4 linked regions of the Homo sapiens genome follow. The protein of the gene in region 1 interacts with the protein of each later gene in a pairwise test. Each region holds a gene or a part of one and is shown in the gene's direction. Other genes may lie near its edges. The genes, in order: TRIM74, LRSAM1, MGRN1 and USP32.

Region 1 (8,292 bases):
CCCTTGAAGGAGCCCTCGGAGTGGCTGCGTGGTGGGGCACGTGGGGCAGGTTCAGGAAAAAGGATGCAGCATGTGATTGCAGGGCAACCTGGTGAGGACACGAGAGCCACCTGCCACCAGCAGGGTTCAGGGCTCCCAGCTGTGGGTTACTTCCACCTTCTTTCACTTTCCCTCTTCCATTGTATTCTAGAGAATTTAGGCCCAGACAAGACACTGATTGATTGATTGATTGATCGATTGACAGAGGCTCGCTCTGAGCCCAGGCTGGAGTTCAGTGATGGATCTCAGCTCACTGCAGCCGCCACCTCCTGGGCTCAAGAGATCCTCCTGCCTCGGCCTCCCAAGTAGCTGGGATTACAGACGTGCACCACCAGGCCCAGCTAATTTATTTTTTAGTTTTTAATTTGCTGGTAAGATGGTTTGTAGCTTTGTTGCCTAGGCTGGTCTTGAACTCCTGGCTTCAAGCGATCCTCCAGTCTTGACCTCCCAAAGTGCTGGGATTATAGGCGTAGGCTACAGCCAACTTTCAATACTGCCCCATTGGGGGTTACGTTTCCAACACATGAAATTAGGAGGATACATTCAAACCACAGCAGTATATTATGACCATAATATTCATTAACTGTGTAACAGGCTGGGCGCGGTGGCTCACACCTGTAATCCCAGCACTTTGGGAGACCAGAGTGGGTAGATCACTCGAGGTCAGGAGTTTGAGACCAGCCTGGCCCACATGATGAAACCGCCTCTCTACTAAAAATACAAAAAATTAGCCGGTGTGGTGGCAGGCGCCTGTAACCTCAGCTACTTGGGAGGCTGAGGCAGGAGAATCACTTGAATCCGGGAGGTGGAGGTGGCAGTGAGCCTGATTGCACCACTGCACTCCAGCCTGGGCAACAAGAGCAAAACTCTGTCTCAATAAACAAACAAACAAACAAAACCTGTATAACAGAGTGTCATTGAATTTCTAAACGTTGAAAGACTTCACATTAAAAAAAAACTCACAATTTAATATTATTGAGTGAAAGAAACCAGACACAAAAGGGTACATTCTATATGATGCTGTTTATGTGACATTCAAAAACAGGCCACATGACAACATGGTAATAAGGACAGTGGCTGTCCTTGTTAGGAGTTATGACTGGAAGGAGGCAGGAGGGAGCTTTCTGGAAACACTGTACATCTTGCTCTTGAGAGTGCACGTATATACATCAAGTGTTTATCAAGCTGTGTGGTTAAGATTTGCACACTTGTATATGTTATACCTCGATTTAAAAAATCTAAATAAGTAAATAAAGATACCTTCAAATCTTTAAAAAAAAAAAAAAAAAGAGGCCAGGTTCGGCGGCTCACACCTGTAATCCCAGCACTTTGGGAGGCTGAGGTAGGAGGATTGCTTGAGGCCAGGAGTTCAAAACCAGCCCAGGCAACAAAGTGAGACCCCTGTCTCTACTAAAGTAAATAAAACAATAAAATAAAAAAAAAAATTCGAGAGATCGAACCATCATCTGCCAGTTTGTATTAGAAAAAAAGAGAGAGAGAAGGAAGACTGCGTGCAATAAGGCTCATGCCTGTAATCCCAGCACTTTGGGAGGCCAAGGTGGGAGGATTGCTTGAGCCCAGAAGTTGAAGACCAGCCTGGGCAACAAAGCAAGACCCGGTATCTACAAAAAAAATTTTAAAAATTAGCTTGGCATGGTGGCACGTGCCTGTAGTCCCAGCTACTCAGGCAGCTAAGGTAGGAGGATGGCTTGAGCCTAGGAGTTGGAGGCTGCAGTGAGCTGTGACCACGCCACTGCACTCCAGCCTGGGCAACAGAGCAAGACACTGTCTTCCCCTGCCCCCCAGCCCCCCACCCCCCCCAAAAAAGGATATAAGAGCAAGAGATTGAGATTCAGAAAGAACTGTTTCCCAGCACCTGTCTGCTCCTGTCGGGGTCGTGAGGTGTGGACAGTGTGCCTAGTCCCTCTGTTTCTGCCCCTCCTCCACAGTGGCCAAGGCCAGCACTTGAATGTTATCAGAGCAGGCCCAACAAAGGCTGCCTCCCCAGTCCTGTGATGTAACCCAGTTTCCACCTGATTCTGGTGACCTTGGGGACACAGGGGTGTTGCTGGGGAAGGGGAGGAGAGAAGGGGCAGAGACCAGGCAGTGGTGCAGGCGTCCAGCTGCACTTCCCACTTCTGACTCTGTGCCTGCTGTTCCCTGCTGGGAAGAAGAAAAGCCAGTGATGCTGGCTTGAGGCCATAGTGGGAGGCCCAGTGGATCCTGAGAAGCTAGGTATTCCAATGTCGGGCTCTCGCTGGGGGCTTCTGGTGCTTCTTCTGTCTCACTGACAAGCTTTCATAGGGGAGCAGGTGGGAGATCAGGGTAGAGGCCTTGTAGGTTCCAGGCTCTCTAGAATTACCTGGGAGTGTCACCTATAAGTGTAGAGTTCTGGGTCTCACTGGAGACCCCCTGAAGCAGATCCTTTGAAGGTGGGCCTCTAGAATCTCTATTACACCTATGCTTTCAACAGTTTCCTGAAAGTTTGGGAACTGATCTAGAAGGTGGGGAGCTTGCCTAGGTTTTGCTGTTCAGTTCTAGGTCCGGATGCATGCTGGGGCTGGACCTTGCATTATTAGTGTCACTGCAAATGACCCTGCAGATGGCCCCTTTCATGCTTGTCTCCAAATTTGAGTAAAAAATGTAGACACACACACACACACACACACACACACACACACACGTATCTTCAAGGGACCAGTTTTTTCACTGCAGTCTTTTGTTTTACAGCTGTGGAAACTGAGGCCCAAGGTCATGTGGGTTAGGACTGGGATCCAGGACTCAAAGTGTTTCTTATAAAATTCTGGTGCTCCTTAGGGTTGAGGGTGGTGGGTGAGTGCTGGACAGGGGGAGGGGAGTGGACAGGACTGAGGTCGGATGCCTGTGTTTCAGCCCGGGCAGTGAGTGTGGATGGCTTGGCAGGTGAGCCTGCTGGAGCTGGAGGACTGGCTTCAGTGTCCCATCTGCCTGGAGGTCTTCAAGGAGTCCCTAATGCTACAGTGCGGCCACTCCTACTGCAAGGGCTGCCTGGTTTCCCTGTCCTACCACCTGGACACCAAGGTGCGCTGCCCCATGTGCTGGCAGGTGGTGGACGGCAGCAGCTCCTTGCCCAACGTCTCCCTGGCCTGGGTGATCGAAGCCCTGAGGCTCCCTGGGGACCCGGAGCCCAAGGTCTGCGTGCACCACCGGAACCCGCTCAGCCTTTTCTGCGAGAAGGACCAGGAGCTCATCTGTGGCCTCTGCGGTCTGCTGGGCTCCCACCAACACCACCCGGTCACGCCCGTCTCCACCGTCTGCAGCCGCATGAAGGTGGGGAGTGAGGGTGCAGGCGGGGCGGCGGGGCCCGCGGGGACTGGATCCTGTGCTCTCTGGCGCTATCAACTGGCACCAAAACGGATCCAGCTATCCTCGATTTCCCTGCAGCCCTGCCCTGGCGCATTCATTCCTTAGTGTTTGAGCGGCAGCTAAACCCAGGTGCTGGGGATTGAAGCTACACGCACAGGATGGGAGCTCCCTGGTGTCACGTGCTCACCCCTTCCTGTTTTTTGTTTGCAGTTCTGGTTTGTTTCTTTTTCTTTTTTTCTTTCTCTCTCTCCCGCCCCCTTCCCTTCCTCTCTCTCTCTCTCCCCCTCCCTCGCCCGCCCCCCCTTTCTTTTTCTTCTTTCTTTTTGGAGACAGCGTCTCACTCTGTTGCCCAGGCTGGAGTGCAGTGGTGTGATCATGGCTCACTGCAGCCTCCAACTCCTAGGCTCAAGCAATCCACCCACCTCAGCCTCCCGAGCAGCTGGGACTACAGGTGCACACCACCATGCCCAGCTCATTTTTTATATTTTGTAGAAATGGGGTCTGGTTATGTTGCCCAGGCTGGTGTTGAATTCCTTGGCCTCCAACGATCTTCCTGCCTGGGCCTCCCAAAGTGCTGGAATTATAGGCATGCACCACTGCCCTACGCCCCTTGTTTGTGTCTGGACACTCCCCTGTTTGCACTCTCTGGTGCATGAGAGTGGGGACTTCATTTTGTCCCCTGGTGTATTTCAGTGCCTGGAGCCATGCCTGGCACATTGTAAATGTCCAAAATGCTGAATCAGTGAATTCCTGCCTTTATAGGCCATCACCAAACCTAGCAGATCATTCTTTAAGATGAGTAATAATAATACCTGACTGGGTGTTATATATATAAAACACCTGTTATAAAACACGTGACTGGGTGGCTTATGCCTATAATAACAGCACTTTGGGAGGCCGAGGTGGGTGGATCACTTGAGTCCAGGAGTTTGAGACCAGCCTGGGCAACATAGTGAGACCCTGCCTCTACAAAAGTTTCAAAATTAGCCTGGTTGGCCAGGCGCAGTGGCCACTCCTGTAATCCCAGCATAAAGCTGGAGGGAGCATGGGTGGGGGCGAGATAGGGCCAGCGAGGTAAGCTGCGGCTGGGGCATGGAGAGGCCAGTGTGACCCGGGAATGGATTTGGAGTTTATTCACAGGATGAGGGAGAAAGGCGGGGGCTGGAGTGTTTTAAGCCAGTGATGACATGCTCAGATCTCTCTGGCAGAGGGGAGCTTTGAGGGTGAGGCAAAAGGACAGTGAGAGATGAAGGTGCCAGGACCTAAGTTGGTGGGAACTGGGACAAAGGCCTGGGGCAGACCAAAGACAAATTTCAAACAGAAAAAAACCCTGACAACTGTGTGTGGCAAGGAGGGTGAGGGATGGGGAGGTTGACTCCAGCTCTGTAATTCCCCCTTGCACAGAGGAAGTGATCGCAGGGGAGGATCCGGCGTGGGCAGGTGGAGCGGGAGGTGCCTGGGGATGTGCAGTCGGGTTGAGGGGTGTGCAGACCAGGACAGCGGTGGGGCTCAGGGCAAGAGGTGTGGAGGGTCCTTCCTCTTGGTGGTCACTGAAGTCCCCTTTGGTGGAGAAGACCAACCCAGGAGAGTCTACATAGTGATAAGGGAAGACACTGATGATGACCCCAAGGGGTACCAGGCTTAAAATCTGGATTGAGAGAGAGAGAGCCCTGAAAAAGGAATAGAAAGAATCCTCAGAGCAGGAACACCGGCTGAGTGTGGCCTCCCGGAAATCAGAGAGACAGACTGAAGGAGGAGATCACGTGTGTGAAATGTCTCTGAGGACTGAAAAGTGTTAAATGTAGCAGTAAGAACTGATTATCTTGGCAAGAGCAGGTTTAGGGGAGTATGGAAGGTGGAAGCCAACTGCAGGTGAGGAAGCCGAGTTTATGTTTTATTAGTTGATGGGAAGGAGGGAGGGAACAGGCTGGGAGATTGTCTGTCCTTTGTAGTTAGGATCCAGCAGCTCAGCTTGGGTCCCTGTTTTAGATTTGGGCTTAATTTTTTTTTTTTTGGTAGAGACAGGGTCTCACTATTTTGTCCAGGCTGGACTCAAACTCCTGGCCTCAAGTGATCCTCCCGTCTCGGCCTCCCAAAGTGCTGGGATTCCAGGCATGAGCCACTGTTCCCGGCCAGATTTGGGTTTTGATGATCCCGAGGCTCTTCTCTGTTGCAACACAGAATACAACTAAATTGCACTCCTTTATTGCCCTCTTTAAGGTGTTCCCGTTGCCTCCTGTTTATTGAGATCTTGAGATGCTCGATTGATGGGTGCATTGATTTGCATAACTTAGTTCTTCTCACGGGGAAGGAATGAGTCCCGTCTGTCTGCCTGGGGAGGGTGACATTGGAATGCTGTTCTTAGGCCTCTGTGAGATGTTCTGATGCCTCATTCTCCAGAGCAAGGACTCTGTCCGTTTATGCCAGCAAGTGCTTGATTCTTTACCCAACTCCCTTCCTGAAAGCCCCTTGCAGCTCTCTGGTGCTTGGGCACGATCCAAGCCAAAAATTCTGTACATTGCATGGGTATAAACCGACGGGGGCTCTGGTCAAGTCATGGAGTAGATGGTGGTCCAGGAGTCCTGGTTGGCACCCCCAAGGCTAGGTCAGATTTGGGGCCCGGGCAGTCCAGGAGAAGTGCATTTATGTCAGCTTGGGGAGGTCGCAAATCCGTGCTGTGTCCAAGCCCACCAGGAATGGATTCAGGTGTTTATAGGTGTGGGGATTCACCAGGTTAAACCCAGGCCCGTGTGAGCACCACTGGCCCTAGAATTAGCCTCACCTGGCGCCGGCCTTTTTGTGATGGCTCCTGATTAAATACCCACTAATTCTGGATCTGCTGGTGACCACAGAGTTCACCTGATGGGTCCCCTACAGGCAGCATTCAATCCAGGAAGTGCCAGCATCACATGGTGACTTCTGGTAGCTGTAACATTTAGTGACTGTCTCCATGTCATGCACAGGGGTGACATCGAGACCCTCTTATGCCTGGGAAGTTCCTGCTGTCAATGCAGAATATTCTCTTTTTTTTTTTTTTTTTTTGAGACGGAGTCTCGCTCTGTCGCCCAGGCTGGAGTGCAGTGGGCGATCTCGGCTCACTGCAAGCTCCGCCTCCCAGGTTCACGCCATTCTCCTGCCTCAGCCTCCCGAGTAGCTGGGACTACAGGCGCCCGCTACCACGCCCGGCTAATTTTTTGTATTTTTAGTAGAGACAGGGTTTCACTGTGTTAGCCAGGATGGTTTCGATCTCCTGACCTCGTGATCCGCCCGCCTCAGCCTCCCAGAGTGTTGGGATTACAGGCGTGAGCCACCGCGCCCGGCCCAGAATATTCTTTGAAGAAAAAAAAAACATTAGAGATGGGATTTCACTGTGTTGCCCAGTCTGGTCTCAAATTCCTAGCCTCAAGTGATCCTCCCATCTTGGCCTCCTAAAGTGCTGGGATTACAGGCATGAGCCACTGTGCCCAGCCTAGAATATTCTTTTTTTTTTTTCTTGAGATGGAGTCTTGCTCTGTTGCCCAGGCTGGAGTGCTGTGGCGCAATCTCGGCTCACTGCAACCTCCTCCTCCCAAGTTCATGCCATTCTCCTGACTCAGCCTCCGGAGTAGCTGGGACTACAGGTGCCCGCCACCATGCCCGGCTAATTTTTTTTGTATTTTTAGTAGAGACAGGGTTTCACTGTGTTAGCCAGGATGGTCTCGATCTCCTGACCTCGTGATCAGCCAGCCTCGGCCTCCCAAAGTGCTGGGATTACAGGCGTGAGCCACCGCGCCCGGCCCTTAGAATATTCTTGAATTATCTTATTTTTTATTTTTATTTTTTGAGACAGAGTCTCACTGTGACACCCAGGCTGGAGTGCAATGGCATGATCTCAGCTCACTGCAACATCAATCTCCCAGGTTCAAGCGATTCTCGTGCCTCAGCCTCCCAAGTAGCTGGGACTACAGGTGTGTGCCACCACACCTGGCTAATTTTTGTATTTTCAATAGAAATGGGGTTTCACCATGTTGGCCAGGCTAGTCTCAAACTCCTGACCTCAAGTGAAGTCCCACCTCAGTCTCCCAAAGTGCTGGAATTACAGGCGTGAGCTACTGCGCCCAGACTATTCTTGAACAATTTAACCTGTTTTGGACTCAAGGGTACCTGGGTGGCTCTGGTTCCCGCCCTGGTTTCCCTGGGAGTGCTTGTGGCCATTGGGATACTCCCAAGAAGGTGATCCAAGGAGCTGAGAAGGGGAGGGATCAGCTGCTCATGGGGCCATGGCCTGTTGCCTCCAGGAGGAGCTCGCAGCCCTCTTCTCTGAGCTGAAGCAGGAGCAGAAGAAGGTGGATGAGCTCATCGCCAAACTGGTGAAAAACCGGACCCGAATCGTCGTGAGTGCCCCTTCCCTCTGCCCCTGCCTGGGACCGGCCACCTTCACTTTCCTGTAGAGCTCAGTTCTCATTGGTCCTTTACAGAAAACCATGCCTTCCATATAAAGCCAGAACTCAAAGCATTCCGGGGCGGGGTGGGGAAAGCGCAAATCCTCTCAGGGGAATTCAACCCAGTTGTCGTTAGGACTGGCTCCAAGTTGGCTTTTGCCCTCTGTGTCCTTGAGACTGAGATAACCCAGGACTTGAGTCTCGGGGGTAAACAGCTGAAAGCATGGGCGTGACTCCTCCGCCCCTGTGCCACCTGTGTCTGCTTGACCTTGCCAGCCTGTCATGGTGCCCTCCCAGTACCTGGGTGCGCAGGCGTGGAGAGGCTGGCAGCCCTGGGCCCTGGCTGATCTCCTGAACTGAGAGGCACATGGGGCTGGGACGCATAGTGCCCCGGCCCTGGAGGTGGCTGTGAAACAGAAACAGGAGCCGAGCAAGATCCAGAAGCACTTGGCCTCCCTCATTTACCCTCCTCACCCTTGCGCGGCAG
Region 2 (3,500 bases), on another chromosome or scaffold:
ACTGGAAAGTACAAAGGAAAATAATTGCATTTCCAAGCGTTATCTCCTGCCATTTTTTATTTGTTTGTTTGAGACAGGGTCTCACTCTGTCGCCCAGGCTGGAGTGCAGTGGCGCAATCTCAGCTCACTGCAGCCTTGACTTCCTGGGCTCAAGCGATCCTCCCACCTCAGCTTCCCGAGTAGCTGGGACTACAGGCATGTGCCACCATGCCTGGCAAATTTTTTTATTTTTTGTAGAGATGGGGTTTCGCTATGTTGCCCAGGCTGGTCTCCAACTCCCGGGCTCAAACGATCTGTCTGCCTTGGCCTCCGAAAGTGCTGGTTTTACAGGCATGAGCCACCGCGCCTAGCCTCTCCTGCGGTTTTGATGCATATTTTCCAAACATTGTGATGCACCTTTATAGCTGTTCGTGTATGCGCCTTTTAAACGTGGCATGCTGCATACCCTTTTCGAGCAGCCTGTTTCCGCACATTCTTTTCAAGTCATTAAACTATTCCTTGACGTCCTTTCTCAAGGCTGTCCGTGGCCCCTATTGTTGAGTATGTGGATTACTTCTGGTTTTTAAACTTTTCTAGGCAATGCTCTCCGAATGCCTTTGTAGTCGAGTATTCGGGAACAGCCATGAGTATTCACTCCAGACAGGACTCACTATGTCCAGGGCAGGCCGTTTGATAAGCTTTTGGCAGGAGTGGCCCAGCTGTCCCTGTCCCCTGATGGGTTTGACACTGGCACATTTTCAGCGTGGCAGAGGCCCCCTTGAGAGTGTCTCCTCTAGACCCAGAGGGCACCCAAGCAATGAGGACAGAGGCCAGGCTCACCATCTGGGGTGGAAAAGACCGAGTCGTTCCTGTGTCCCCGTGAATGCACCAGATGCCCTCTGAGCTGCGTCCTAGGCCGGGTCCTGTGCAGGTTTAGAAGAGAGAGACCAGCTGCTTCTGGAGCCCTGAACAAGCCAAGTGGTGCCTGTGCCCATCAGAGGAAGCTGCCTGTTCCTCACGGTGCCCTACTGCCATCTCCTACGCATCAGGTTACTTTGCAGATGGTGCCTTGGCGCTGTGCCTTAGCAGCCAGGTACTATGGCTGGTGCCCCTGCCCTTGTAGGCCTTGGGGGTCACCACCAAAGGAGGAAGCACCGCCCCAGCAGAACACAGCCCATCCGGCTCCTGGGCGCTGGAAGAGAGGGGCTGCAGCCCGGGAGGGCCAACGACGGAAGGGAGCAGTGGGCGTGGCCAGGTCCAGGAGGGGCCCGCAAAGGGCAGTCAGGCCCAGCAGGGATTGAGAAACGCCTGTGTTGATCCCACTCCCCATGTCATGCCAGCCCTCACTGAACAGCTCCGTTGTTCTGAGCACGGGCTCTGGAGCAAGACAGGCCTGGGTCCAATTCCTGGCCCCACCCTGGGCAGGTTACTCATCACCCTGAACCTCAGCTCCCTCACCTGGGAGGTAGAATCTCCTTCCCGGAGTTGTGAGAATTAATGATGGCATCGTTAGGTGCACAGCATGGTCTGGCACATGGCACTGTGAACATGTCAGCTACGCCTGTTGTCACCGTGGCTGTTATCAGCATTGTTTGTTCACTGCTGTATTCCCAGCACCTAGAACAGTACTCAACGAAGAGTTATCGAATGGCAGAATAAAAGAATCACATTCAGGCTGGGTGCAGTGGCTCACGCCTGTAATCCCAGCACTTTGGGAGGCCGAGGTGGGCAGATCACTTGAGGTCAGGAGTTTGAGACCAGCCTGGCCAACGTGGTGAAAACCCCATCTGTACTAAAAATATAAAAATTAGCCGGGCATGGTGGCACACACCTGTAGTCCCAGCTACTCGGGCACTCCAGCCTGGGTGACAGAGCAAGAGTCCATCTCAAAAATAAAATAAAAGTACCAAGTGCTGTCCACCCGCTCAGAGGAGCATGGTTCATAACCATCATTTTGGTTTTGTTTTGTTTTGTTTTTTTGAGACGGAGTTTCGCTCTTGTTGCCCAGGCTGGAGTGCAGTGGCGCGATCTCAGCTCACTGCAACCTCTGCCTCCCGGGCTCAAGAGATTCTCCTGCCTCAGCCTCTCGAGTAGCTGGGATTACAGGCATGTGCCGCCATGCCTGGCTAGTTTTGTATTTTTAGTAGAGGTGGGGGGTTTCTCCATGTTGGTCAGGCTGGTCTTGAACTCCCGACCTCAGGTGATCTGCCCACCTTGGCCCCCCAAAGTGCTGGGATTACAGGCATGAGCCACCGCGCCTGGCAACCATCATTGTTATTACAGGTTTTATTACCATTTTGTGACTAACATTGCCTGCTTCATTCCTGGCAGACGGAGTTAGAAGCCAAAAGTGAAACCAGGCAGGAAAATTACTGGCTGATTCAGTATCAACGGCTTTTGAACCAGAAGCCCTTGTCCTTGAAGCTGCAAGTAAGGACTGCTGGTGCCTGTCCCGGCCAGGGAGCCCTGGGGACCTCCTCCCAGAGGCGCCTGTGGTGCCTCCACCATGCTCTGCCTCTTGTTACTTTTCTGGTGACTCTAGCATGCCAGATCCTGTGCCAAGCCCCAGTGGAGACAGAAGCGAGAGTAAGGGAGTGTTCATTCTGGTGAGGGGGACGACAAGGCACTGGTCACTGCTGTGCAGGGCAGAGACCACTGAGCCCACAGTAGAGCAAAGCCTGTGCCGGGAGCCACTGTCTGTCCAGCACCTGCGGGGACAGAGAGGCAGTTGAAACAGCCCCCTCTTGGTGGATGTTCAAGTTGCTTACTATTTTCAGGTTTGCAGACAGAGCGGCAGTGAACCCCTGGGCCTATCTATCTATCTATCTCTGTGTGCCTACCTATGAGTTTTTGTAGGAAAAATCCCGAGTACATTCTATGTATTATGTTATAAATATTCAAACCCTTCATTTCCTGTTGTAAACAGTGGGTTCTTTTCTTCCTTCCTGCTCATGGTACACGTTTCTGTCTTGCAGGAAGAGGGGATGGAGCGCCAGCTGGTGGCCCTCCTGGAGGAGCTGTCGGCTGAGCACTACCTGCCCATCTTTGCGCACCACCGCCTCTCACTGGACCTGCTGAGCCAAATGAGCCCAGGGGACCTGGCCAAGGTGGGCAGCAGCCGTCTGCATGGAGGGGAGGGGCACGCAAGGCCGCTGTCCTGACCAGCCGGGGGTTGATCTGCTCCTTGTGTAGTCCTCGTTGAGGCCTGTCCTTACCTAATGGCCCAGGGCCACCTTGCTTCCAGATGGCCAGAACACCTGCCCATCTGCCCCAGCCGCCTGTGTGTGCCCTGCACACTGTCTCACTGGGAAATCCTGGGGAGGTGGGTCCTGCTGACCTGATCAGACTGGATCTTCAGACTGGAGGGACAAGACAGGCCCTTGGGGCTTATCTGATCCAGCCTCTGCCCTGCCTCATGGTGTCACAAACTGTCGTGGCCACAGCACTGCCTGAGCCCCTGTTCCTTTCTGGGCACAAGCTGAGCTCTTTACAGCACATTAATCCACTTATTCTTCAAAACA
Region 3 (8,292 bases), on another chromosome or scaffold:
CAGGCCTGGGAAGGATTGGGACAGCTACAGAGGAGGCCCACACAGAGGAGGCCAGGACTCCGAGTCTCATGCCCCACCCACAGGGGAGGGTCTCGGGCCTTCTTCAGGCCCACAGACGGGGGCAGGCAGTCGTCATCTGTGGAGGCGGTAGAGGAGAGGCCGAGTCTACATCGGGGCAGCCTGAGGTGAACTCCTGGGCCCTGGGCCCCGCTCTTGGAGTTGGCTGCTGCTGAATGCCAGCAGGTCAGCCTGCACGGCCTCAGTTCTGAGCCACGGAGAGCACATGTGCCTTTGGGGGCTGTTTGGCGCCATCTCCGTGGCTGTCAGCCTTGTCAGCACAGGTTTCTGTGTGTTTTTAAATCCATGTGGTGGCCCCTCTGTTCCACTGACTTTTTCACATCACAGAGCCCTTGACTGTCTATCCGTGTCTGTGCGTAAGGCATGAACACACGCCAGAGCCTTTGGTTTCTCATAGGGGTGCAGCCGCTGCCTGGCGGGGTGGGCGGCATCACTGAACCCTGCTGTCCCTGTAGATGGGAGGGCCCATGAGATGGTGAACACTGGGGGCCCTGGTGTCTTGGACTTGGCCCTGAGCTCGGTCCTGTCTAGCCTCAGCCCCCCACCCAGGGCCTTCACTCCTGAAACCAGAGGTGGACTGCGCCCGTTAGGTCCTTCATGCGCCCTTCCCTAGGCTGCGGCAGCGGGAGGTATGGGAGGGAGGGGCAGGGCCAGTGCGCTCCTCCGCGTTGAATTCTGGCTGCGCTCTGCCTCCCAGCTGTGGTTCTCCTTGTGGTTCTCTGTGGTTGCAGCAGAGTGTTTGTTTCTAGACGGCCTCGACCGTGTCCCCAAGCTGGTGCCCTTGCTGTGGCTGTGCTGGCTGCTGCGCGCTTGCTAACCGAGCTTCCGTCTGTCTCTCCCCCTCTCCGCGCAGCCCTGGGGCCCGACTCCTGCTCTGTTGGTATAGACGAGTAAGCCGGTACGTGACCTCCCAGACGCGCTTCGGGGGCTCTGACGCGCGTCCTTGGAGAGAGGAGCCCTCCCCTGCTCTCTGGCGGGGGTTCCTTCTGGTTTTTGGGTCTTCGTCCGCATCCGCATCTTCCCAGGGGCCCTGGATTCCGAATCCAGAGCTCTCCAGTGGCTGCTGCACCTTCCCCCAGAAAGTGGCCTCCTGGGGGGTCCTGACTTTCGGGGCCAGAGGTCTCTCCATCTGGACTAGGCGGCCGGTCAGGCTCTTCTTCCAGCCTTGAGGGGCCCTGGAACAGTCCCAGCCCAGGCAGGGAGACAGACACAGCCCAGGTGCGCCAGAGCCACTGTCCACTGCGGGAGGCAGGAGCTTGAGGGATGAGGGCAGCACCGTGGAGGGAACCCCAGGGAGACATGGGGTGAGCGTCCCAAGGGGAGAGGCCTGGGCCTGGCCTTGTTCCGGATGGTCCCACCATGAGTTCGCATCGGTCCTGCAGCAGACACGTTAGGACGCTCAGCAGGTCCACTCCCGTGTTCCGGTCGTGGCTTTAACAATTCATGGGGAAAGAATGCGCCCCGATTGGGAGAGCCCCTGGATCACGTCTTCCCAAGCTCAGTCCCTGTCTCTTGGAGGGAGTCCGTCCTCGAGGGGCCCTCTGGTGCCCAGGGGAGAGTATCTTGCGTCCTGTCCTGAGGGCGTCCGCTCACACAGCCACCTGCTCCCCCGCTCCCTCCTTCCCTTGTCAGCATGGCCACCGTGGGCCTGGCATCACCATGGGCCTGGCACACAGTCCCTCGTGGGCTGCCTTTGTGCCATGAGCCCACTGCTGCCGACTCACCTGTCCCTCCCAGTACTGGAACCTTCTGGAACACCAGCACTAAAAGATAGGAGGCCCTGTGAGGTTGGCATCCCCCATCCCCCCCAAGAGGCGCCCTCTACCAGGGTGGCCCAGGTGAGTGTTTTACAGAAGGCGGCTCTGTCCAGGCAGTGGTTCGCACCTATAAGCCCGGTACTTTGGGAGACCGAGGGGATAGATCACTTGAGCCCAGGAATTCAAGATCAGTGTAGAAAACATAGACCCCCTCTCTATGAAAAATAAAAAATTGGCTTGGGCGTGGTAGCTTGTGCCTGTGGTCCCAGCTACTCAGGGGTGCTGAGGTGGGAGGATTGCCGGAGCTGGGGAGGTCAAGGCCCACTCCAGCCTGAGACGCTGTCTCAATAAAAAAAAATACACACACACCCACCCACCCACTCCAGCCTGAGACCCTGTCTCAAGAAAAAAAAAATACACACACACACACACACACACACACACACGGGGGAGAGAGAGAAGGCAGCTCCAGGAGTGCCACCAAAATGTAGGCAGACGGATTGGGGACCCTCTGCCTTCCCAGAGGGTCTTGGCACACAAGCTGCGTGCAGCTCTGGTCTGCCGAGGCCCATGCAGCCTGCTGGGAGGTGCCTGGCCGGGGGTGCAGGCTCTAAGAGGCCCTTTCCCCTTGGGTGGACTTGAGCCGGGTCAGGGAGAACTTCGCTTCTTTTGACTGCGCTCTGCATTCCCATGAACCTCTGTCTTCTTGAGCCCAGCGAGTCCCTCTGTTGACCCCTGTCCTGAGCCATTATACCCCTAGATTGAAACAGTCAGCACCTTTCAGACGGCCCCGGCCTGCGCATCGGTGGAAGGTGCCGTGCGAATGTCACGATTCAGGTCAAGCTTCCGGAGCTGGGGAGTGCAGGTGTGATCTAGAACAGGGCTCACAGCCTCGGAAACCTGCTCTCGCCGCGGCCCCCGAAGAAAATAGACGCCCTTCACCGGAGAGTGGGGCCTGGGCCGTGTCTGCTGGGAGCCATGTGTCAGGGCTGGTGGCTGGGTGTCAGGCAGCCCTGAGGCCATGCTGGCCCCGTCCCAGGCTCTGCACCAGCACCATTGCCCAAGCCCCAGGGACGCCAGACCCATCTGGGGACAGCGCCCGGCGGCGTCGTGCAGGCCACAGTCTGGGCATTGGGGCTCTGTGGGAGGCTCCTCTCTTTGCCTTGCAGTAGCCATCCGGGGGCTACTCTGAGCACGGGCTTGTTCTCACCCAGGGCCGCTCCCCACCCCTGCACCCTGGGTTGACCGAGTTCCACCCTAACCCAGCCGTAAGAACCTTGGCAGGACAGTGGCTGGCCACATCCCAGGAAACCGGAACCAGGGCAAGGGCAGGAGGCCCAGAGGGCATCCACCGCGGTGCCGTGTCGCGCTCTGACTCGGGGCTGCAGATCTGCTGTGGGTGTCCGGGGATCTGGGATCGTCTGTCCCAAGAGGGACACAGCGTATTTGGCACAGTTAGGGAGTCCCCGGGCCCTTGGTGTGCTCACATCTGAGTGAATGCTGTTGTGGCCACAGGCGGCGGGAGTGGGGGTGCTGGATGGCCCAGCCCCTCTGGGGCTCCAGATCGGTAGGAGCGGGTGGCGTGGCACCAGGCATCCGAGTGTGACCCTCCTCCCTCTGCTCCCACCTGCAGGACGGCCCACCTCCATGGAGACGGCCCACGGCCTCGCCACCACCAGCCCCACCTGGCCTCCACTTGGTGGCCCCAGCCCCGATCCCAGCGCCGCCGAGCTGACCCCACTCTGAGAGCCTGGCCGAGCTGGCAGCATGGAGCCCTCGGCTCCCCAGACTTTGCCGAGGGGCTGCTCCGGACCCCGTTGTGAGCCGGCCTCCTGTCTGCATGCCCCCTGTGGCCACCAGGCTCCGAGGGGCCGTGGTGACTCTTGATCAAAGAGCACAGTGAACTGTCCCTTCTGAGTCTCCCTTTTCTACAGTTGATATATTTGTAACTGGTACAAGATGAAGGACAGCAGCTTTCCATCCCTAGTTCAGAGCCCCCGTTCCCCAGGGTCCTGTGGGCTGAGCGGCTGGGGCTGGGGCTGCCCACGTGTGGCCTCCGCTGGCTCTGCCTGCTCCTGCAACAGTGCGGTCCCTGCCCGGAGAACTCAGGAGGCCTGCAGAAGAGAACTGATTGGTGGTCGAAGCACCATCTTCACAGATGTTCAGGGGCAGTGGGGGGCTCCAGGCACGGTCAATGAAGGAAACAGTGCCTGTCCACCCACCCTGCGTGTCACTGTGGCGGCCTGGCTGTCGCTGCTTTTTGTCCTCTGCCGTGTTTGCGCGGCCTCAGTGCCCTCCCTGGTGCGTCTGCGCTGGGGCCCTCAGTGCTCGGGGCCTTGGGGTGCATGGGTGCCGCCCTGGGCAGCTAGAGTGTCTCAGCCCGGTGCTGGGCCTGGCCGAGGGGCGGAGGCACAGCTGCTTCCAGCAGCCAGCATTCAGTGGCCTTGTCACCAAGCTCCACACCTCCTCCTGGTGCTGGCTTTGGTGACATCACAAGGCCCCTCCAGGTGCAGGGGCTTCTGTTTGGCAGGCCCCTGCCAGGGAGGACCTGGTGGCCTCCTCATTCTCTTTTGCCATTGGAATGTCCCCTTGCAGTTCTCTTCTCTTTTTTTTTTTTTTTGAGATGGAGTTTCACTCTTGCTGCCCAGGCTGGAGTGCAGTGGCTCAATCTCGGGTCACTGCAACCTCCGCCTCCCGGGTTCAAGTGATCGTCCTGCCTTAGGCTCCTGAGTAGCTGGGGATTACAGGTGCCTACCAGCATGCTCGGCTAATTTTTTTGTATTTTTAGTAGAGAAGGGATTTCACCATGTTGGCCGGGCTGGTCTCAAACTCCTAAGGTCATCCACCTGCCTCGGCCTCCCAGAGTGCTGAGATTACAGGCGTGAGCCTCCGCGCCCGGCCCCCTTGCAGTTCTCTCTGATTTGGTTTGTTCTGTCTCAGGCTTCTGTGGCAGGACTGGCCCAGGGAGGAGGAAGCCAGCAGCACACCTGGGGAATGGGGTCCCGGCCGGGAGGCTTGGCCTCTGGGCGACCTCGTCCTGTTTTTTTTGTTTGTTTGTTTGTTTTTTTAAAGGTAAACCTCCTGGGCCGCAGATGGCAAAGGGAGTGCCTGGGCCTGGTGACCCAGGGCTGGATCCACCCCTGCGGAGCCCTGGGCCAGGCAGGTGTCTGCTGCTCACCTGGCTCTGGAGGGCTGCCCTGCAGCTGGGCCTGGGGACAGGTCGGCTGTGGGGCAGCTCAGTACCCTCCCTGAGGCTCACGGTGGCTCCGAGCATGAGGTCCGCCTCCTGGGCGAGACCCAGCAGTGGACAGCATGGTCCTCACACCCAGCTCCCTGCACACCCAGGCCAGCCACCCCTCCCGCTCGTGCACAGGCACGCAGATGCGCTCACACGTACACACACACAAATGCACGCCCACTTGCACATGCTCACGCACATGTTCACACATGCACACTCACGCTCACACATGCTGTCACGCATACACACACGCACATACTCCTGCACATGTTCCCATGCATGTGTGTGCACTCGGACCGAGCATCTCCCACGCACCTCTACCCCACCCCAAGCACCTCTCTCCCCCCATGCACCTCTCCCCAACAACACACACAGCCCCCTGCACCGCCCGCCCCCCGCCCCCACCAAGGCCCCAGCCTCTGGCCATCAGTCCTGGTGCCAGAGCTTTGCGTGAAGTTCGGGCCGCAGAGTGGCCCGCTGGGACTCCCATGTGCTGCCGTCTGATGTGCTCAGATGGGCTCATCGTTGGTTCGTTTTTACTGTATATTTATAGTAATAAAATCATGCAGCAATATCCTGTCTGCTCCTTCCTCCGGGTGCAGCCCTCAGGATTGTGGCTGTTTCCTGACCCGGAGTTTTGCCGCTGGGTGGTTGGCGGTGGCTCCCGCACCGTGGCAGCTCCACGGCCTCTGCCTGGCTTCCCTCTGGGGTCAGGGCAGTGAGCAAGGTGAGGGCTAACGAGAACGGGCAGCTCCCAGCCATCCCTGTCAGGGCTAGTTGTCTGGTTGGAGGGAAGCCACACCCTCCAGATTGGGCTCTCTCGTGAACAGGTGGTTGGGGAGCCCAGGGCCTCCAGGTTTGTGAGTAGTCGCTCCGGTCCCCATCTCTAGTCCTGATCATCTCAAGGCATTTGCTGAGCACCTGCTGTGCGTCAGTGGAGGCAGAAGAGCTGAGGCCCCGGCCCTGGCCCCGGGCGCCTGCCTTCCAGGCAGTGAGATGCCCAGCAGCTAATCAGAATCCTGCCAGGTTTGGTTACTATTAGGAAGAAAGTCAGCATGGTGGTGAGATGAACCCGTACAAGGTCTCATTTAACCGGGTGGCAGGGAGGGCCTCTCTGAGGAGACTTAAACAGCCCTGAGGGCTGAGGAGGAGCTGGCCCTGGAAGAGTGTTCCAGGTGGCAGGAGTGAGCCTGATGTGTCCCCTGGGGACGGAGCCCCTGGCTGGAGTGAAGGGTGCTGGATAGATACTGAAGAGCTTGTAGGGGCTGCTGGAGTGTTTTTATAAGGGGGAGTCAGTTTTAAAAACAGGCTTCCAAGCGGAGAAGCAGTGCTAGCACCCTGCGGCTGGCGTGTGGAGGCCGGACGGTGGGAGCAGGTCTAGCTGCCCATGGTTGTGGGCTCGCAGGCTGGAGCCCGGCCCCAGGCCTCTGCACAGCCCCCGCTCCCCTGCCCAGGGAGTGGCCAGTGCCCCAGGGCACCCACCACACCACTGCCTACCACTCAGGGCCCCAGCTCCTTTGCGTGCAGGTCAAGCTGCCACCATGGCCCTTCTTTGAAGACTGTGAGGGTGGAGGGAAAGCCCGTGTTCTAGCCCATCAGTCCCTGCCCCGAGAAGGCTGCCACCCATGGGCCCTGCAGCTGCTCTGACCTGCCTGGGTCTGGCCCCATCCCAGTGTGGGTAGAGGGGTGCCCAGGGTGTCAGACGGGTGCTTGCATGGGCCAGATGGGCTCCCCCTCTGTACCTCCCAGAAGAGCCAGCGCTTGTATTGATGTCTGGTCTCGGGGAGGGGCTGCAGCAAGGGGAGCCTCTCCTCCTCTGCCCCTGCGTCCCACGGGCCCTGGGCGCTGGCTGGGCTTGGCTGCCTAGGGGTGGGGCCCTCTTTGGGTGAGAGGACCCTTCCCCTCGCTGCCCTCTCGCCTTCTCACATGGTCGCTCACTCTGGAATCTGGACTTCCCCTGCTGCTTGCAGCTGTCCCATGTGACCCCTGACCCACTGGTGGCCACAGGAGGAGAGAGAGGTGCCCTCTCTGGGTCCTTATTCTCCACATCTGAGGCCACCACGGACCTAACAGGTGAGTTTCCAATGCCCACCCTCTCCCTCTCTCTTCTCCTGCCTGCCTCCACTGAAGGCAGCCTTCTCTGTGCCAGCGAGCTCGGCCTCACTGCACGGCTCTCCCGAGGCTGTGCCCCAGCCCTGGGCACCCATGCTGTGAGTGCAGGCAGGGGGGTTCATGTGCTCAGCAAATCCATTCCCCTGGTGGGGAGGAAAGTGGCCCTGGGCCCTGCTGCTGGTGAGGTGAGCCTTGCCATCATGGAGTTCAGGGCACCTCGCTCTGCCTTGGGCTGTTTCGGATGCTTCTGAGCCCCAGAGACATCTCCAGTACAAACACAAGGTAAGTGGTAAGTACCTCAGGCCCTTGTGGAATCGGGATTCTGCCTCTGTCATCAACTGCCAGTTGTACTTAGGCAAGTTATGTCCCTCTCTGAGCTCCAAGTTCCTCATCGTAAATTGGGGAAACCCCTCTTCCCCCCACAGTACCTGGCACAGGGTGCCCGGCTTGGAGGATGCTGGAAAGGTCCAGCCCCGGAATTTAAGTCACTTTCTGCCCAGCAAGCTGGGTCCACAGAGCCCCAGAGCTCCCGGTCGTCCGCCCTGACCCAGCGTGGACTCGGGGACTGGGGCACTCAAGCCCTGCCAAGCCCTGCTCCCCGTGCTGTCCTGGATCGAGCCTGCCAGCAGGGTGGCTAGGTCGGGACAGCTGTCGTGCATGGCAGGCGAAGGCCATCTCCCTCCGGGCTTGGGTCCGGTGGCGCTGGCGGAGCAAGGCTCCGGGGCATCTCTGGCTCGTGTGGTCGTGCCAAGGGTGCCATTGCGGATGGACGGGGCCATGCGGGCCGGGTCGGCCTCCTGGGGAGAAACGGGTGGGCGCAAGGGGATCGGCGCCATCGAGGGTGGAGAAACCGCAGGGAATTTCGGCTGTCCGCTTTGGGGCGCCAAGGAAGATGTTCGTCGCCCACAATGTCAACCTTGAGCCACCACGGCACCGACCAGTCGTCTAGGCTCTCCCGTCGGAGGCGGGGCCGCCGCCCAGGGTGTGCGACTATTGGGTGACGGCTGACGCGCACCGCCCTCCTTTGCACACCGCCCGCAGCACCTCTCGACGACGCACCGCGGCGCTGCGAGGGGCTCGGTCCCGGGGCGCGCCGGCGATTGGCGG
Region 4 (8,292 bases), on another chromosome or scaffold:
TAAATTACTCTGACAGTTGTTACAATTTAAGAAAGAATTGTAATTTCTAATGTTTTAAGTATAAGAAATTCCATTGTTTCTGAACTTTAATTACTTCTGTAGATGGTTGAGTATAATTTTACTTCAAGTAGGTAATTGAGGGATAAGATTATTCAAACCAAGTGACTTTAAAGTCCTCAATATGAAGAGTAGGAATGGTTTTAGAGCCAATTACAGGCATGTGCTGCAAAAAGATGTTTGTCAACAAAAGACCTGTATACAGCAGTGGTCCCATAAGATTATAATACTGTATTTTTAGTTGTGCCTTTTCTATGTTCTAACATGTTTAGATACACAAATACTTACCATTGTGTTACACTTGCCTACAGTATTCAATGCAGTAACATACTGTACAGGTTTGTAGCCAAGGAGCGACAGCCTATACCATACATAGCCTAGGTTTGTGTAGGTACACTCTGTGATGTTCACACAAAGACAAAATCACCTAATGATGCATTTCTCAGAATATAACCTCGTCGTTAAGCAATGTATGTACTAAAATTAACTAGATTTTAAAACTTCTGATTTAGGAATAAGATGTCTTTAAAAAAAAAAAGCAATCGAATGGGTATAAATTAGATAGATAAGAAATTAACACATTCCTATCTGTCCTTCCAGTTCGCAACAAAGATATGAGTTGGCCTGAGGAGATGTCTTTTATAGCAAATAGTAGTAAAATAGATAGACACAAGGGTAAGTCTCCAGTATTATTTTTTAAAGAGATTATTTTAAATGTATTCTTTTTTTTTCTTCTCTCAACTGTTAAAGTGCTAACAACTTTTGGTTTTCTAGTTCAAAAGTAATTAGGGCCTTCTTCTTTTTCTTTTTTCCTGAAGCAGCATTTGATGTTGGCAAACCCACCATCAAATTATTTTCTAAATTTCTTTCTAACTCTGCAATTAAATAATTTATATGTTTTAAAAGACATACTAGAAGAAGAATTGTTTGAATTATTTTGAAAAATCATAGCAATTAAAAAGAATAATTGCTGCTTCTGGGTTACAAATGAGCATGGATCATCACTGTTGCCAGACACTCCATGAAAAGCCTTCTCTAGCATTTCAGAGACCTGCTAGAGAATTATTAGCACCATTTAGCTGATTATGAGAGTTATAAAAAACCTTTTCATTGAATATAAGTAACTGTTTGTGCCATGGCATATTACTACAGCTAAGCTTTGGTTCTCATATTGTTTGTTCCAGTTCCCACAGAAAAGGGAGCCACAGGTCTAAGCAATCTGGGAAACACATGCTTCATGAACTCAAGCATCCAGTGTGTTAGTAACACACAGCCACTGACACAGTATTTTATCTCAGGGAGACATCTTTATGAACTCAACAGGTAATCTTTCTGGAGTCACTGGCCTCTTAACCTGTGACTTTGATATAAACCCAATATCACCTAAATTTCCTCTTTTTTCACCCTGTGGGAGAAAGATTTTATCTTATTTGCCCTATTTAATATGAAATAGGCCAAGGAATACATCTCTTGTTTCAAAAAGAAAAGATATTTTGATGTGAGATGCTAGGCATTTTTGCGCCCACATGATTGTGATTTATGAGAATCTTTGGCAACAAATTTTCCTCTCAAACTTCTAGGACAAATCCCATTGGTATGAAGGGGCATATGGCTAAATGCTATGGTGATTTAGTGCAGGAACTTTGGAGTGGAACTCAGAAGAATGTTGCCCCATTAAAGCTTCGGGTAAGCAGGTTAAAATAATATAAAAGTATTTAATTCCTAATAGTTGTTTAATCATTTTTCTCTGCTTGTTTTTTGTGTTTAGCCTTTTAACTTAATAAATGTTTTTGGATCCTTCACTTGGTATAAACAAAAGGTCAAATTCTTTTGCTTGTTTAAATATATGCAAAATTACTACTGTATATGTAGTGGGTAGGATAAAGACCAAAGGTACACTCTAAATTCGGGATGTCATTCATTTTACTAATTTGTCAAACATCTTATATGAAGAGTAAACCTTTTTTGGTAATACTTCACTATTAGCAGTATTCTAACTGCAAGGTGGACCTCAGAGTCTTATTAATTACATCCAATCCAATCCATTTTCAACGTAACTAAGATAGTTCTATCTGTAGAATACAAAGAAGTAGGCTGGGCGCAGGGGCTCACGCCTGTAATCTCAGCACTTTGGGAGGCCGAGGTGGGTGGATCACTTGAGGCCAGGAGTTCAAGACCAGCCTGGACAAGATGGCGAAACCCTGTCTCTACTAAAAAAAATTAGCCGGGCATAGTGGTGCATGCTTGTAATCCCAGCTACTTGGGAGGCTGAGGCACGAGAAACGCTTGAACCTGGGAGGTGGTGTTTGCAATGAGCCAAGATCGCACCACTGTACTCCAGCCTGGGCAACAGAGTAAGACTCTGTCTCCAAAAAGAAAAAAAAAAAGTAGAAGGATGAATGAATGAAACTAATGAATATAAGTTTTATATTAATATCAGATGTAGTAGATTTTAGTGAAGTTAGGATTATTCATTATTTTTATTTAAATACAAAGCAAAAGCTTTTTATATTACAAATTATTAACTATAACAGCTACACATTTGACTACTTACCTCTTGCCAGGCACTATTCTAATTAATTTATATCCTCAAAATAATTCTATAATATAATGCAGTTAATAAAATTTAGGATGCAACAAGACCAGAAAATGTAATTGTTGAAGACAACATTATATTATATAAAATAATGTATACACATATTATTTTATACATGTTATGTATTATTATATACACATTATTTTATGCATATGTTATGTATATACTATGTACCTATAAAATATACATATTTTATATGCATATAAAAATGTAAAACGTTATAGAACAGGATGTCTTTCAATGTGAGCAAACGCTGTTTTAATGTTTCTGTCTTAAATAACATCTGTGTGCCTGAAGAACAGTTTGCTTACATAATACTGAACTGAGGACACAGTATTGCACAGTATTGGCCAAAATACTTCTCTTTTTTTGGGGGGGGTCATTTGACATTAAGATTCAAAAGATTTCATGATTATCCAAAATATATTTGTTGAAATAGAGGCAGACTAAGTACTATACTATTTATTTTCTTACAATGGCTCTGATTGGATTATAGGACATGTTCATTCCAAATTTTATGGGTAGGAAATAATGACTGTGACTTCTCTTATATTTATAGTGGACCATAGCAAAATATGCTCCCAGGTTTAATGGGTTTCAGCAACAGGACTCCCAAGAACTTCTGGCTTTTCTCTTGGATGGTCTTCATGAAGATCTTAATCGAGTCCATGAAAAGCCATATGTGGAACTGAAGGACAGTGATGGGCGACCAGACTGGGAAGTAGCTGCAGAGGTTTGTCAGTTTTGAGTTTCTAATGTAAGCAATAGACAAAATGTTCTGGCCACAAATACATGTAGCACAACTTAAATGCAAACTCAACTATTCTGAGATCAGAACTTTACTGCAAAAATGAATGAATTTCTATTTCTGTGCTTAATTCTTATGCAATAATGCCAAAACAAAAATACGTTTAATGAAAATAGAAAACTGTTGCCATTTCATATTGTAAACTTTATGGGACTGGATGTAGGAATAATTATCCAGTGGAATTTAAAGAGTCCCCGTAATTGCTAAAGTAATGGATACAGTGACCTATAGGCATGCTTTATACTTGTTAATGGACAAATAACTTTAATATTTACCATTGTTACCTTGATAAGAACAAATGAAAAATAGGATTTTCCATCTCAATTTAATATTTTATGTTAAATGAAGAGTAAGGATTATATTCTTTACATTTAAATCCAATATATTTAACTAGCTTCTTTGAATTTATATAGAAATGCTTCTCTTTTGGATTTTGAGAGAAAATTCTCATCTTTTTTATTGCTAGGCCTGGGACAACCATCTAAGAAGAAATAGATCAATTGTTGTGGATTTGTTCCATGGGCAGCTAAGATCTCAAGTAAAATGCAAGACATGTGGGCATATAAGTGTCCGATTTGACCCTTTCAATTTTTTGTCTTTGCCACTACCAATGGACAGTTATATGCACTTAGAAATAACAGGTAGGTCAGAAAGTTCTGAAAAATTACTTGACTCCATTAAATTTACTTTATTTAAATAGCCTGAATTTGTAAGCATAGTTATTTGTTTACAAATAAAGACCGGTAGTCAGCATATTATAATTGAGCAACCTAATTTTAGGCATGACTTGAGGTTTGAAAGATGTAGACTGGGGCATGTTTTTTTGGTTTCAAATATGCCAGCAACTCTCTTTAAAACCCTGCAAAGCCACTGATACTTTTATGTCAGATGAACACCAAAAAAATACTGATTTCACTTAATATTATCCCTAAGTACCATCTGTTTTAGTGTTTACACATAAAATAAAAATTCTAGGCTGAAATATTTGCTATTATATTTACAGGTCAGATATATCTGTACACAGCATTTAAGACTTTCAATGAAACCTGCATTTTACCAATAAAAGATCTTTTCTCTTTACTAGTGATTAAGTTAGATGGTACTACCCCTGTACGGTATGGACTAAGACTGAATATGGATGAAAAGTACACAGGTTTAAAAAAACAGCTGAGTGATCTCTGTGGACTTAATTCAGAACAAATCCTTCTAGCAGAAGTACATGGTTCCAACATAAAGGTAATATTAACTACTCTAAGAAACTTTTGATTCTATCCTCCAAAGATGACATTTTTCTCAATTATTATGATCAATTGTTAGGTTATGTGACCAAGAGAGATACTAAAACATAACGAAAACTGAACAACAACAACAAAAAATGCCAAGTTTTCCAACCCAGAAACTTAAGAGTTTTCTACCAGAATAAAGGGATAATACTGATGGTGGTATTTTTGAAGAAGGGAAATACGTAAGGCTGCCTATATGGAGTGTTCTAGCTGTGTCACTATAGTATAGGTTTCCACCAAAGACTGCTGCTGTTACCAAAGACTGCTGCTATTACCCTTGACAACTCTTCTGTATTACCGCTGTTACTAGAATTCTTCCTAGGTTAAAGTATTTTATGTATTTATGAATGTGTGTTTTTAGTATTTATGAATATATATACTTGGTCTTTTAACACACTAAGAAATTAAGAGTAAAGACAAATTGACACCAATCATGTCTTTCTACATACCAGCTGGGGAAACAAATAATCTAATAAATATATTGCCTACTCTAAATTAAGCTCCTGCAACTGGTATTATTTATATTCATCTTTGGGATTTCTGAACACACTCTCACCTCACTGACAGTTTCTTAATATGAAATGCAAAAATGGAGTCTCTGAGGGTTGGAATTTAGATCCCTGAAACGGACAAAACTGAAGTCAGTCGTATATAACACACTTCTTCCTGTGAAAAGAGATAATAGTTCGAAAATTGAGGTTAGTTTTCCGTTATTTTTATCAAGCATTCATCCTTTATGTAGTTGAAAAATTATTCAATCATCTCGTTGGTTTTACGGATGAAAGCGCCTAAGACATTCTTTTGAAATATGTTAGAGAGAGAACTTTTCCATTTTATCTGAAACATCTCCCCCTTCTCATCTTGCTTCTGTTTCTGTAGAACTTTCCTCAGGACAACCAAAAAGTACGACTCTCAGTGAGTGGATTTTTGTGTGCATTTGAAATTCCTGTCCCTGTGTCTCCAATTTCAGCTTCTAGTCCAACACAGACAGGTAAGATAGAACTAGAACTCCTTCTCATGATTGCTCCTTTAAATATTTGTCTAAGAGTTGTCATCTTTTTTATATTTGTTCATGCTGAGGATATTATAGCAGAAGAATTTTGGAACCCAAGGGAAACCTTACTGATTATTCCATATTTTTTCGACGAGAAACCTAAAATTTAGAGAACCCAAGTGACTTCAGTTAGATAGGTAGTCGTTAGCTAATATACCCTTGGAATTCAGATCTCTTTGAACTTGTATCTAATATAACATGGCAACAGCTAGTATGAGAGGAACATACTACCAGAAAATATAAACAATAGATATAGCTAGAAAGAAATCCAATATTATATGTAATTTAATGTGGTCACTCACTGAGTCCTTTTAGCCACTAGTATGCTTTGTCTATTCTTTATATTACTTACAATTAGGTTAATTAGGCTAATTCCCCAACTATAAAGGGCTTTATGAGGCTCCCCTCATTGATGTGTAGTAGGTAGATAGTCCTGACGGTGAGTTGGTGGATGTTCTAATTTTAGTTTTAGTTTAGAGCATCACTGTCCAATAGAATTCTGCAGTGGTGGAAACTTCTGTGATCTTTGCCATCCAATACAGTATCCACCAGTCACGTGGACTGTTAAGCGCTTGAGATGTGGTTAGTGTGAGTGAGAATAATGCATTTTTAATTTTTATTTAATTTAATTTATTTATTTTGAGAAATGGTCTCACTCTGTCACCCAGCCTGGAGTGCAGTGGCATCATCTTGGCTCACTGCAGACTCTGCCTTATGGGCTGAAGCAATCCTCCCACCTCAGCTTCCCAAGTAGCTGGGACTACAAACGTGTACCACCATGCCCAGCTATGGTGTATCTTTTGTAGAGATGGGTTTTCACCATGTTGCCTAGGCTGGTCACTAGCTCCTGGGTTCAAGGGATCTGCTACCTCAGCCTCCCAAAGTGCTAGGATTACAAATGTGAGCTGCCTCATCCAGCCTAATTTAAATTTTAAATGCAACATCTGGGTAGAGGTTACTGTATTGGACAGTGTCTTCAAAGGCAAAGAGAAGGAAAAGAAAACAAGTGGTAGAACTGTTTGTGTGCTACAACATGGTGCTGATACAGGTTTCTGCAAAAATTCTGCTTAATAGTTTCCAGCAGTTACTCTTTCCTTTTCATTTGGCCAAAAGTGTGAGTTAGGGAAGTAAAACTGGAAAATTAAAATCTTCCAATAAATCTAGAATTATTTATACTGTGATTTCTCCCTGCCCTGTGTTAAGAGACTACACTGTCTCTGGTCCTCAGGATACTTGAGAAAAGAGCAAAGATGAAAATACCACAAGCTTATGATACTGTACTTATCTTTGAATTTGTAGATTTCTCCTCTTCGCCATCTACAAATGAAATGTTCACCCTAACTACCAATGGGGACCTACCCCGACCAATATTCATCCCCAATGGAATGCCAAACACTGTTGTGCCATGTGGAACTGAGAAGAACTTCACAAATGGAATGGTTAATGGTCACATGCCATCTCTTCCTGACAGCCCCTTTACAGGTTACATCATTGCAGTCCACCGAAAAATGGTTAGTTAAATGTTAGGCAACTCACTGCCAGTCTTGCTAGTGTCATTTGTGAAATAGTCATTTTCTGTCTTTGCAACATCATTGAATGTATTTTCTTCTCTTCTTTTCTTTAATTTTTTAAAATTTAATAATTTTACAAATTTTATTTTTTTACTTTTTTATCCTGTCCTCAAAATCTGTTGCTGTGAATGCATTTTCAATGTATTATATATGCTAATATAAGTGATCAGAGCCAGGATTTAGTATTACTCATGGTGGCTAATGTATGAAATGACATTCCTTATCCGTATATTAAGAGGCAACAGGATAGTCAGTGCATCTGAGTACTACTTTCTTTAGAAATTTGTGTCTCCTGGCCGGGTGCAGTGGCTCACACCTGTAATCCCAACACTTTGGGAGGCTGAAGCAGGAGGATCACCTTAGCTCAGGAGTTCAAGGCTAGCCTGGGCAACATAGTGAGACCTCGTCTCTTCTAAAAAAAAAAAAAAAAGACTTCTTTTTTTTAACTAAGCAGCCATGATGGTGTGTGCCTATAGTCTCAACTACTCTGGAGGCTGAGGCAGGAGGATCACTTGAGACTAGGAGGTCAAAGCTGCAGTGAGCCATGCTTGCTTGCCCCACACATTCCAGGCTGGGCAAGACCCTGTCTGAAAAAGAAAAGAAAGAAAGAAAGAAAATGGCCAGGTGCGGTGGCTCACATCTATACTCCCAGCACTTTGGGAGGCTGAAGCAGGGGGATCACCTGAAGTCAGGAGTTTGAGAACAGCCTGGCCAATGTGGTGAAACCCCATCTCTACTAAAAATAAAAAAATTAGCTGGGCATGGTGGCATGCGCCTGTAGCTTCAGCTACTCGAGATGCTGAGGCAGGAGAATTGCTTGAACCCAGGAGGCAGAGGTTGCAGTGAGCGAAGATTGCGCCACAGCACTCCAGCCTGGGTGATAAAGTGAGACTTTGTCTCAAAAAAAAAAAAAAAAAAAAGTA

Evidence for each region.
Region 2: the proteins of TRIM74 (region 1) and LRSAM1 interact in a two-hybrid assay, tested with the Homo sapiens proteins (one large-scale study listed by BioGRID and IntAct).
Region 3: the proteins of TRIM74 (region 1) and MGRN1 interact in a two-hybrid assay, tested with the Homo sapiens proteins (one large-scale study listed by BioGRID and IntAct).
Region 4: the proteins of TRIM74 (region 1) and USP32 interact in a two-hybrid assay, tested with the Homo sapiens proteins (one large-scale study listed by BioGRID).

The regions. Positions count from the first base shown.
Region 1 is NC_000007.14:72,960,815-72,969,106, reverse strand, and holds part of TRIM74 (tripartite motif-containing protein 74), read left to right. Parts: intron 1-2,153; exon of another isoform or gene 2,154-2,274; intron 2,275-2,931; 5' UTR 2,932-2,949; coding exon 2,950-3,348; intron 3,349-7,661; coding exon 7,662-7,757; intron 7,758-8,292.
Region 2 is NC_000009.12:127,493,010-127,496,509, forward strand, and holds part of LRSAM1 (E3 ubiquitin-protein ligase LRSAM1), read left to right. Parts: intron 1-2,310; coding exon 2,311-2,409; intron 2,410-2,954; coding exon 2,955-3,086; intron 3,087-3,500.
Region 3 is NC_000016.10:4,685,328-4,693,619, forward strand, and holds the end of MGRN1 (E3 ubiquitin-protein ligase MGRN1), read left to right. Parts: intron 1-931; coding exon of another isoform or gene 932-972; exon of another isoform or gene 973-3,468; coding exon 3,469-3,581; 3' UTR 3,582-5,645; downstream 5,646-8,292. UniProt on the Homo sapiens protein: E3 ubiquitin-protein ligase. Mediates monoubiquitination at multiple sites of TSG101 in the presence of UBE2D1, but not of UBE2G1, nor UBE2H. Plays a role in the regulation of endosome-to-lysosome trafficking.
Region 4 is NC_000017.11:60,204,464-60,212,755, reverse strand, and holds part of USP32 (ubiquitin carboxyl-terminal hydrolase 32), read left to right. Parts: intron 1-657; coding exon 658-732; intron 733-1,241; coding exon 1,242-1,380; intron 1,381-1,637; coding exon 1,638-1,743; intron 1,744-3,212; coding exon 3,213-3,386; intron 3,387-3,927; coding exon 3,928-4,102; intron 4,103-4,545; coding exon 4,546-4,697; intron 4,698-5,623; coding exon 5,624-5,735; intron 5,736-7,097; coding exon 7,098-7,309; intron 7,310-8,292. UniProt on the Homo sapiens protein: Deubiquitinase that can remove conjugated ubiquitin from target proteins, such as RAB7A and LAMTOR1.